Linked DNA regions of Homo sapiens: region 2 is linked to region 1. Evidence: fine-mapped expression QTL. A gene starts in region 1. The other region holds a variant in brackets. All regions are shown on one strand. Distances are from middle to middle.

Region 1 (5,362 bases):
CTTCAAGGGGCTTCCAGCCTGGGGACAGAGCCAGCCATGGCATCAACAGCCAAACAAACACTAATGAACGCCAGGTGCTACCATTCCAACCCAAGGATCTGGCTCTATGCAGGTAAGACCTGGGCAAAGCAGGCTGGGTAGAATTTCAGAGGGGATGCTCCCCCAGCTTGGGCCTCAGCAGGATCAAGGTGAGGGAGTTTTTCAGTTCCCAAGAGGCTGACAGCCCCCTGCGAATCGAAATCCATGAAATCCCGGGAAGGTGTGCTCGGGCCTTGAATGCTGGGTGAAGACTTGGAATTTTCTCCTGAGGAGACCGGGGCAGGGACAGACAGGGTCAGCACTGGCTCAGGTGAGGGGCAGGCTGGAGGCAGGGGAGTGGGGGGATCGTCTAGAGGGAGAGGACAAGGCCCATGGAGACAGGTCGGAGACTGAGGGGCATGAAAGTTGGGCACATTCTCACCTGGGTATCAGAAGTACTGCCTCCACCATTGGTGTCCGGAGAGGTGTCTGGCTGGGAAAAGTCCCCAACTCCTGTTGAGAAAAGTGGTGAGGGGAGTAGGAGTGCCAGGAACCCTTGGGGCCCCAGCCTCCCACACGAACCCCAAGCTGGCAGACCTGAGTTCACAAACTCGTAGATTTTATGTGGGTCGTGAGGGTCCTTGCTCCGGTCCTCTGCTAAACGCAACCCTTCTTTGCGGTTGAGGGCAGAGCGGAAATTCCTCTTCCAGGTTGGCAGGTCTGGCTTATCCCTCCCGGGAACATATGCACCAGTGGCCTCGGCCCAGGCCTGGGGCAACAGTGGTGTCAGGATGGTGGGGGAGGACGACTTAGATCCTGCTCCTGGGGCCCTAACCCTGTCTCCCGAGTCCTAACACCACCCTCTTTCCCTGGCAAGTTCTAACTCTGCAAGGTCCATCCCCAAATCCCCCCGTCCCACCTACCTCCATCCCCCACCTCTAGTTTTCAAAAGGCTTTTTTTCTTTTTGAGATGGAGTTTCACTCCTGTCACCCAGGCTGGAATGCAATGGTGCAATCTCAGCTCACTGCAACTTCCGCCTCCCCGGTTCAAGCGATTCTCCTGTCTCAGCCTCCTGAGTAGCTGGGATTACAGGTGGGCACCACTACACCTGGCTAATTTTTGTATTTTTAGTAGAGATGGGGTTTCACCATGTTGGCCAGGCTGGTCTTGAACTCCTGACCTCAGGTGATCCGTCCTCCTCGGCCTCCCAAAGTGCTGGGATTACAGGCATGAGCTACTGTGCTCGGCCTCTTCAAAAGCCTTTGAAACCTCTTTGGTTTTTGTTTTGTTTCGCTTTTGTTTTTAAAGAGATGGAGCCTATGTTGCCCAAGCTGGCCTCAAACTCCTGGGCTCAAGCGATCCTCCCGCCTTGGCCTTGCAAAGTGCTAGGATTACAGGTGTGAACCACCGCCCCCGGCCCAAAAACCTTTTCTTTCTAAGCCAGGCTTCCAAGTCCAACTTGGTGTCTAATCCCGTGCACCACCTGCCCCGCGACACCCTCTGTGATAACCCCGCCCCTCACACTGTTTACCACCTCTGGCATATACTAATTCGGTAGTTAGGAACCTCAGATTTGGGGCTCCAGGCCTCACCTCTGATGTTTCAAGAACCATCCCCCAGTATCTATCCTACAACCAAGAGCCCCGGCCTCTAGAAAGCCCCAAACCCCCAGGATGCATTTCCTTTGCGTACTAACCGGCTTTCCCGGTTTTATTCCCGTAACCCTGCAGCTCCAACCCTGCTTGCGCCCCACCATCAGTCAGCGGATCCGGCTAGCCCCGCCCCTCCCGTTCTAGCCCCACCCACCAGCGTTGGCACGAGCCCGCCCCTCGCGCGCCACCTCCGCCTTCTCAGCCGGGCCCACTAGGAGTCCTTTCCGCCCAGCGCGCAGCTCCGGGTTTCCAGCGTCCCAGGTCGTCGCACGCACCTGGAAGATTCCGAAATCCTCCTGCTGTGCATCCTGCCGTAGGCCGTGCTTCCAAGGGATGCGGAAGCGCGTGCGGCTCTTGTTCACCCAGGCCACGCCCTCCAGTTGCCCCAGGTCCAGCTGCGACACCAGCCAGGGCAGGATCCGTGGCTTTGGGGTTCCCATGGTCCGGCCTGCGCGTATAGGGCATTTCCTGGGCGCGACCGGCCTCCCCCGGACCCACCTGGCCTGGAGTTTCCGCACCCAGACCTCCTTCTCACGGGCCACGGCACAGGTCCTTCACCCATATTTTCGGGGGTACAAACAGGAAACCTCCTCTTCCCATCCTCCCATCCTCCCGAGAGGCTCTCTAATCAGCTAGGGTTCCTTCCCATATCCATGGCACATCCTTCCCCAGCGTCTTCAGTGCAGACCCTCCACTCCCTCAATTCCGCCAGTATAGACCTCCTCCCTCCCCCACATCATCGAAAGTAAGTATCCCCACTTTCAGGGTAGCATCCTCTTTCCCTAGTTATTTCAGTGCAGAATCGATTCACGTGTAAGCCTCTACCTCCTGCACTTACCCCAATGTAGACCCCCTTCCACAGTCCCCCTACAGAAGATCTCCCAAAACATTTCCAACACAGAACTTCCATTCAATTCCCCTCCGACTGCCCGCCTCCCTCCTCCAGGACAGAGCACGCCCCAGGTTTCGAGACTGAACTACCCCCATCTACGGAGTCCACCCCTCCCTCTCTAGAACCCCCTCAGTGTAGACGCCTCCTCTTTTCCTCTTTCCTCCCTACTTTTTCTAGTTTTTCTGCAGCCGACCTCCAGCGTCGGCCACTGTAGCTCCTTCCTTGCTCCACTTTCCCCAGAGTACACAGCCTGCCTTTCCACTCTCCGTGCAGACCCATCCTCTTTCCCGCTCCTCGCTCTCGGACGCCACCAACGCTCTCCCGGGCTCTTCCGCGTTACCTACGATGGAAGGTCGGGGCGTGCGGGCAGCTGGAACCCACCCCTGTCTTGGAGCTCCGGGTAGCTCTCAAACTCGAGGCTGCGCACCCCCTTTCCCGTCAGCTGAGCTCTAGAGCGCTGGGGCTTTCTTTTTGATCGACTTCTTGAAATAAAACCAACTTTATCATTCTTTGGGTAACAGACCCAAAAGCCGATGGGACGGCCCGCTGGGCTGTTCCCGCCCCTATGCCCTTTTTTGGGTTTCCGGCCAGAGGCATGCTGGGAGCGTCACATGCAAATTGAGCGTGCACCCAGCGTTCCGCCCTTTCTACGCTGGGCCGGTTATCGACCCGGCCCAGTGCGCAGGCGCGGGAAAGTTGAACTAATAAAGTTTGTACGAGTTCAGTGGAGGAGACCGCAAGTTGAGTGGAGGAGGCGGCGGTGGGGCCCCGGACCAGGTCAGCGGGGTGTTGACGAGGGGTGGGGTGAGGAGGGAAGAGGAGGGGGCCGGGATCCAGTGGTGGGCACCCCAGTCCCGCTTCTCTGATATCCAAGGGTCCAGGGTCCTCTAGATTCCAGCAGGGGTCGGAGATTTGGAACTACACCTCACAGCAGGCTGCGCGGCGAAGAAGCGCGGACCTAGGGGAAGATTTGCCCTGAAACCTCTTGGGATTGGTAGTTCCCGATGCTTTAAGGGTTTCAGGAGTTTGGCATATGCCTCTTATAGAATCCAGGAGTTGGGGCGCTAAGCCTCTTCTTCCTGGGAGACCTAAGGGTCTGGGGCTCCAGTTCCTTTTTCTCTAAGACTCAGAAGTCCAGGACCCCAGCTCCCTCCTCCTTTAGACCCACGAATCTGGGCACCCAGCCCCACCACCTTTCCTTGGATCGAAGAGTCTTTTTCCTGATCGCTTTTTCGTCTGAGGACTCAAGAGTCTAGGCCCCCAGACCCACACTCTCCAAAGGACCCAGGAGTCCAGGCCCTCAGCACCTTCCTTGGGACTCACAAGTCCTGGTCCCCAAGCCTCCACTTCTTGCTAAACCCTTGGAGTCCAGTCCCTAACCCTCTCTCTCACAGGTGCCTCCATGGCAGGCTCTGAAGAGCTGGGGCTCCGGGAAGACACGCTGAGGGTCCTAGCTGCCTTCCTTAGGCGTGGTGAGGCTGCCGGGTCTCCTGTTCCAACTCCACCTAGGTAAGAGGAGTGGCCCTTCTCCCCCAGGGGCCAGCATTTGAGGCTCCCTCCTAACTCTTGCTCCTGGTCTCAGTCTGTCTCCTCTCTTTATATCTGGCTCTATTCTCTGTCTTTGGGGTTTTGGAGAGAGGTCCTCAGCGGGGGAGGGAGGGAGTTGGGGAAAGAGACTGCTTGCAGGGGATCTCTGGTGGGGTCAGTCTCTGAAGTCCTCCTCTCCAGAAGCCCTGCCCAAGAAGAGCCAACAGACTTCCTGAGCCGCCTTCGAAGATGTCTTCCCTGCTCCCTGGGGCGAGGAGCAGCCCCCTCTGAGTCCCCTCGGCCTTGCTCTCTGCCCATCCGCCCCTGCTATGGTTTAGAGCCTGGTAAGAGATTTCCATGATCATCTATGAAGCCGGCAGAACACGGGATAAGGTGCTAGTTTAAGATCACTCAGCTAGGGGGTGGCTGTGTGGAGTCTCTAGCACCAGCCTTCAGGACAGAACCGTCCTGTCCTCTCCCCTCCCCAGTTAGATTTCTGTCAATTCTGTGGGTTGGCTTTCAGAGAGCATTTGGTCAATCTGGTTGTTGTCTCTTTCCTTCCATAACTACTTCCCTGCCCCTAGGACTTTTGTAGCCAGGAATACCCCTGATAGAGGGGCAGAAGGGCTGGTTTTCAATCACATCTCCCTGGCTGTTTTAGTTGCGTGACTCTGGGGAAAATGCTTTCTCTTCCCTGCTCCCCTGTTTTTCCAATAGCAGAGTAGGAATTGGGGAGGAGGTCACTGGACTTGATCAAGGTGACCCACAAGTTTCCTCATAGGTGTGAACCTGGACAGACTAGTAATGGCTGCTGGGAGTGCTAGCTTGAAAAGGGGTTCACAGCTTGGGAGAGGAAGTGCTGTGATCAATTGGTGATGTCTGTAGTGAGTGAGGGAAGGGGATACTAACAGTAATGTCTTGTGTTTGCCTTCCTTGGATGAGATCATCTTCAAGGTCTAGTTGAGCTCTGACAGTCTTTTGGAGACAGATTGTTGCTCTGTCACCCAGGCTGGAGTGCAGGGGTGCAATCTCGACTCACTGCAATCCCCACCTCCTGGGTTCAAGCGATTCTCGTGCCTCAGCCTCCCGAGTGACTGGGATTACAGGTGCACGCCAGCATACTAGCTGATTTTTATACTTTTAGTAGACACGGGGTTTCGCCACGTTGGCCAGGCTGGCCTCAAACTCCTGGCCTCAAGTGACCCTCCCACGTCGGCCTCCCAAAATGTTGAGATTGCAGACGTGAGCCACCGCACCCTGTCAGCTCTGACA
Region 2 (5,362 bases), 21 kb before region 1:
GCGGACCCCGCCCCATGTGTCCCATTGGCTTCTGGGAAACCGAGTGCGGTTGCCTTCCCGCCGGCCTTCACGTCGCCGTGCTCGGTACTTGAAATCCCGGCAAGCTCGGCGGCGCTTTAGCTCCGCCTCTCTCCTCCTTTGCTCACGAACCCCGCCCCAGCCCGCCCCGCCCCGCGCCGGGGCCGGAGCCGCAGCCCGAGCGGCGGGGTAAGATGGCGGCGGCAGTCCGGGCCGCGGGGCTCGGGCCTATTGGGGTGGGCGGGGCGGAGTTGGGTCGCTAGTTGTCCCGGGGTCCTCCCCACAAGCCACGGGTCCTAGAGGGCTTCTCGGGGCGGTCTCGGGCCCGGCAGCTGCGGCGAAACCTGGCGCCGAGAGGGGGGCCTTCTCAGGGCCCCGGGACGCATCCGTGGGTTCCTGGGGGCGTCTATGGGGCGTCTCCGAGAGGACTTGGGGCGTCTCTGGGCCTAGACCGAGCCTAAGGCCTGCCCTCCATCACACAGCTGGCCTGGATCGTGTCTGTAGACACTGTAGATTGTCTTTTTGGGCTGACCGGAGGCTAGGGTCTGGTTAGAGGGTTCTGGGGCCATCTTGAGATCTTGAGATATGTCCCAGGGGTGAAGGAGGGTCTGCAAGACCTGAAGAGTATCTTCAGAGCCATCTAGAGGCCTGGGGTATGTCTTTTAGGGCTGGAAAGTGTCTGCATGGGCTGGCCTGAGGATGCAACTGGTCTGCATAAGTCTGGGGCCATTTATCAGGCCTAGAAGGAGTGTTCAAGGGCTAAGAAGTCATTTAGGGCCCCCTAGGGGGTTGGGTTATGCCCACCAGGGAAGGGCGCCAAATATTGAGATGTACTGAGGGTCTGGGGTCTCCAAGGTATGGGTAGTGTCTAATAATGGGTGACAGGAGGCTGGGGGCAGTTAGAAGGACCTGGAACCATCTAGATGGCTTTAATGTGACTGCAGGAATGCAGTTTTGATGCCTGGAGCAAATTCGAATGCCTTTGGGGTCAGAGCAGCTTGTGGCGAATAATAATACGGAAAGAGAATGAGGAAATTTTGCCCAGCTTAGATATACTTGCCCTTCAGACAGTAATTCAAATGAAAAATGTTTTAAGATTCTGCATTACCCTGGGGGTTATTGAGAGAGTTAGAATTAATCTACATTAGTCTGGAAGAGTCTGGAGGGTCATCTAGACCCACTATTACAGTGCTTTTCAAGGGGAAACCTGGGCCATGTTGACCGTGATCTGCATTAAGATACATTTTTTCATTGAGACCTGGTACAGACAGTCATAATGTATTTAACATTATATAACATAATGTATTAACATTAACTCACCTTCCACGAATTGACATTTCCACTTACTACTTGTGCTGTGCTGTGAAGAACTATTTTGTTCTATTTACTTTTTAAAACAAGCTATTTGTGAAGCACTAAACTGGTATATGACCCTGTTGTTGGGGAAACCACTGATCCAGATAGGACCTAGCAGTATCTGCAGAGCATTCTTCTGTTCAGAAGATCTCAGTAGCTGAGGGTGTGTCTGCGAAGCCTGGTGCTTTCTAAATGAGCAAGCAAGCATCTTTGTATACTGCAGAGGGTTTGGGGATCCCTCAGCCTGTAGTCAGCAGATGTTGATTAAGCTTCTGATATGTGACAGTCACTGTTGTAGGTAGCATGTGCTTCCCCGGGAGGTGCTGGAGAGCAGTTCCAGGGCCAGGAACTGGGGCTGAGCTTATTGAGTATTGGTGAAAGAGGCTGGGATGTAATAGACTATCAGGGTTGGGTGTGTCTTAGGAAGTTAGGAATTAGGTGGAGCTGGGAGGCTGAATATGGAGGCTTGGCATGGTTTGAAAATCTATATGGGATCTAGAACAGGACCAGGGCCTTGTCTTTGCAGGCATGCTGTGGGGGAAGCGAGGAGACAGATGTAGGGGAAACCTGGGCGTTAAGGGCTAATAGTGTCATTCCTCTTCATCCGTATTGAGCACTTGAGGTGCTCTAAATGTGTGGCAGAAGTCAGGCTTTGAGTATTCACAGCCATTCTCTGAGATAGATGCTCCTATTTCGTGCATTTACAATTAAGCATACTGAGTTGTGGGTTAGGGATTTTGAAGCTTTCTAGGAATTTTGAGATTGGATATTGTCTTATGAGTAGCAGATTTGACAGTCATGGGGAAGCTTACAGCTGAAATATTCATATTTTTCTGAAGCCCTAATCAAGACATCCACCTGTTTGATGGATGATCTTTCAACTGCCTGACTGGGGAATCATATCAAAGAATTTCCATGACATTGCAAAGGCTTTGTGCAGATGGCGATAGGTAAATGCCTCCTGTGAAGTTTTCCTTCGGCATGTCTTTCTGAAGTTTAGCGTTTTCATTTTAAAAATGGCATACTGGTTTTGCAGATCACTCAATGAAGTTTCCAACTTAGGTGTATAAATACAATTTGGGGGTGGTCCTCACCATCGAGGACAGTTGATGCTCTAGGAAGCCGTGTGGTGTTTAAGGCATGGTGTTGAATATTGCCCAGCACATTGGCCTTGGGAAAGGTGGGTTTATAGGACTGTGGAACACACCCTTTGAAATCACAGTGCAGCACACACAAAAAACCTTGGTGTTGGCTTTGCCTCTTAGGAGGCCAGGGAATGAGGTCTTGAAGTTTGGATAGGTTGTTGGGGAAGCTGCGGGAATTGAGGAGTGAGATGTTAAAAGCGGAGGCCAGGGAGGCCTCCCTTTGACATAAGAGGCACCTGAGACCCAGAAAAAAGGAAGAGAATTGCTCCTAGTCCCTGGGGTGTCTGTGCTGGGTCCAGCGCCCACCCAAGCACAGGGTGGAGTGGGAGGAGGTGGAGGAGAGGAGGGGTGCCAGAGGGGATGCTGAGGGAGATAGTGTGGGGCCCTTGAGGTCTTCATGTCTATCCTCTACTTCCATCCTTTCTCCCGGGACCTCCACTCCAAACTCT[C/A]CCCCCTGGACCCCCAGGTGACCATGGAGGAAGAAGATGAGTCTCGAGGGAAGACAGAGGAGTCGGGGGAGGATCGGGGCGATGGTCCGCCAGACAGAGACCCCACGCTTTCTCCTTCTGCCTTTATCCTGGTGAGGCTGCTGGGCTCCTGGCACTGAGGGATGGAGGAGCTGGGCATCCACACTCCAGGGGCCTGACTCCAGGGCCTGAGGCAGGGGCGCTGGACTCTTGGCTCCCTTGAAGCACTTGAGTCTAGCTGTCAGTGTCTGGGATGTCTGTCTCCCAAGGGGCAGAGGTTGCAAAGCATCTGCCTGGGTCCTCTGACGCTTGGTTCTTCCCCCCTTCCCCAGCGAGCCATCCAGCAGGCTGTGGGAAGCTCCCTGCAGGGGGACCTGCCCAATGATAAAGGTATGGCGGCTTCCGGTTCCTTTTAGCCCCTGCCCCCTCTCTGCATTCTTTATCCTAATGTCATTCATACAAGCTTTTCTGAAGCCTCCTGGGTGCCACCCTTGTGCTGGCATGGGGAGCCAAAAATGGGCAGACACCCTGTAGCTGCCTTGGAAGGGCCTAGTGTGCAGTGGAAGGGAGACAGGCACAGTGCTGGGAGAGGGCAGGAGGCCCACTTGAGCTAGCATGGTGGGAGACGGGTCAGGGCACCTTCCCCGAGCAGGGACAGTGAACGGCTCTCTAAGGACCTAGAAGAGTCTAAGGACCTAGGATTAGAGGGAAGCCTGATCAGCTGCAGCAGGCCTACAGCACGGGTGCAGCGGCGAGGGGCTGCGCTGGGCTTCCTTGGGGCTGGCATGCAGGAGGGTGTGAGTGGGGTTGGGGGAGGCAGGAGAGGTCTGTGGGGACTGGATCCCAGCAAGGCCTGAATGCCAGGTTGAGGTGTCTGAGGGCAGACAGGAGGACGAATGGCTGAGCGTCGCAGCCTCTGAAGTGGGTGCTGGGAAGTCCTCCTGGGAGGTGGCGCATGGAGGCCTGGAGAGCATGCGGGAGGCTGGTTCCGCTGTCAGGAACTAGATCAAGCTCCTCTTTCCTCTACCCCGCAAGTCTCTGCAGCAAGTCCCCTGTGTCCAATCCCCCATGCAAATCTCTCACCAGATGGCTCTCGGTGTCATGGCCTTCGATGGCGGCGCTGCCGGAGTCCACGGTCAGAGCCCCGTTCCCAGGAATCAGGGGGCACTGACACGGCTACTGTGAGTAAGAAGAGGGGGCTGGGGGCCTGGCTCACGGGTATCAGGGAGGAAGGGATGGGGGCCTGAGTCTGGGGGAATGGGGTTTGGGGACCTGGACTCCTGGCTCTGCGATGCTGACCAGGGGCAATGTTGGAGAGTCTGGGGGCCTGATCTGTGGGCCTGAGCTTTGAGTGTTGATGGCAGTCAGGCTATAGGAATTAGATCCTCAGTTTTCTTGGGGATCTTAGATGTCTGGGTTCCTGAGAGGTTAGGGAGTGGGGAAGCAGGATTTGCCAGTCTTCATGTGACCAGGGACGGCGTAGAGCCTCTCTGGCCTCTTCCAGGTGTTGGACATGGCCACGGACAGCTTCCTCGCAGGGCTGGTGAGTGTCCTGGATCCCCCGGATACCTGGGTTCCCAGCCGCCTGGACCTGCGGCCTGGCGAGTGAGTAGCTGGGCAGCTGGAGTGGGAGAGGCCTCAGCGTGAGAGCCAGAAGCACCCCTGAGGCTCACCCACCCCTTCCGCCTTGCAGAAGTGAGGACATGCTGGAGCTGGTGGCTGAGGTCCGAATCGGGGACAGAGATCCCATCCCTCTGCCTGTGCCCAGCCTGCTGCCCCGTCTCAGGGCCTGGAGGACGGGCAAAACGGGTATGTGGGGCCAGGGCGGAGCTGGGCAGGTGGTCGTGGAGTTGTGTGGGGATCGGCTGTTTTTGGTAGTGATGGTAGCGGTGATCATGTTATTTAGACAAAACCTTTCCCTTCTCTTCGTATTAGACGTGATTAAGGCTGTAGGCGCATACAGATGTACATAAAGTAAAAACTGATGTGCTGGGGCTATGTGGGAGTGGTCAGCGTGTGTGACAACTGGTTTCGGCACGCTAAGTATTAGTGTCACTGCACTGGGCGTTCATCTCCCCAGGAGGGGGACTCTTCGAATCTCTATCTTCAGAGAAGCAGACAGCCTGAAAAAGGGCAGGCACTTGCCCAAGGGCGCACAGCCAGATGCTCCGTGGGGTGCCTGGGCCTTGAGCCCTGGTGTGTCTGAGTCTGAAGCCCAAGTTTTTGATGTCTGAGATGTGCGCTGCCCAAGGAGGAATCTCTTCCTCCAACCCCACACACAACGGTAACCCTGTGAGCCCTTTAGACCAAACGCGAACGCACATCTCAGTTGCAAGGAGGACTTGTTACTATGCACATCACTGGGCCCACTCCCAA

Evidence for each region. PIP is the estimated chance that this variant, and not a neighbour inherited with it, causes the effect.
Region 2: its variant is fine-mapped to the expression of IRF3 in prefrontal cortex (GTEx, PIP 0.93).

The regions. Positions count from the first base shown.
Region 1 is chr19:49,662,728-49,668,089 of GRCh38, forward strand. IRF3 (interferon regulatory factor 3) reads right to left here and starts at 3,130. Exons shown (of 8, transcript NM_001571.6): 1 at 2,904-3,130; 2 at 1,947-2,119; 3 at 616-787; 4 at 461-531. The coding sequence starts at 2,111. It overlaps BCL2L12 (BCL2 like 12), which reads left to right and starts at 3,206. Exons shown (of 7, transcript NM_138639.2): 1 at 3,206-3,340; 2 at 3,958-4,072; 3 at 4,292-4,434. The coding sequence starts at 3,966. RefSeq lists silencers at 3,109-3,258, 3,299-3,378.
Region 2 is chr19:49,642,036-49,647,397 of GRCh38, forward strand. It overlaps SCAF1 (SR-related CTD associated factor 1), which reads left to right and starts at 174. Exons shown (of 11, transcript NM_021228.3): 1 at 174-207; 2 at 2,986-3,099; 3 at 3,319-3,376; 4 at 4,073-4,167; 5 at 4,491-4,591; 6 at 4,680-4,795. The coding sequence starts at 2,992. RefSeq lists an enhancer at 1-64 and a silencer at 95-384. The variant C/A (reference allele first, on the strand shown) is at 2,969.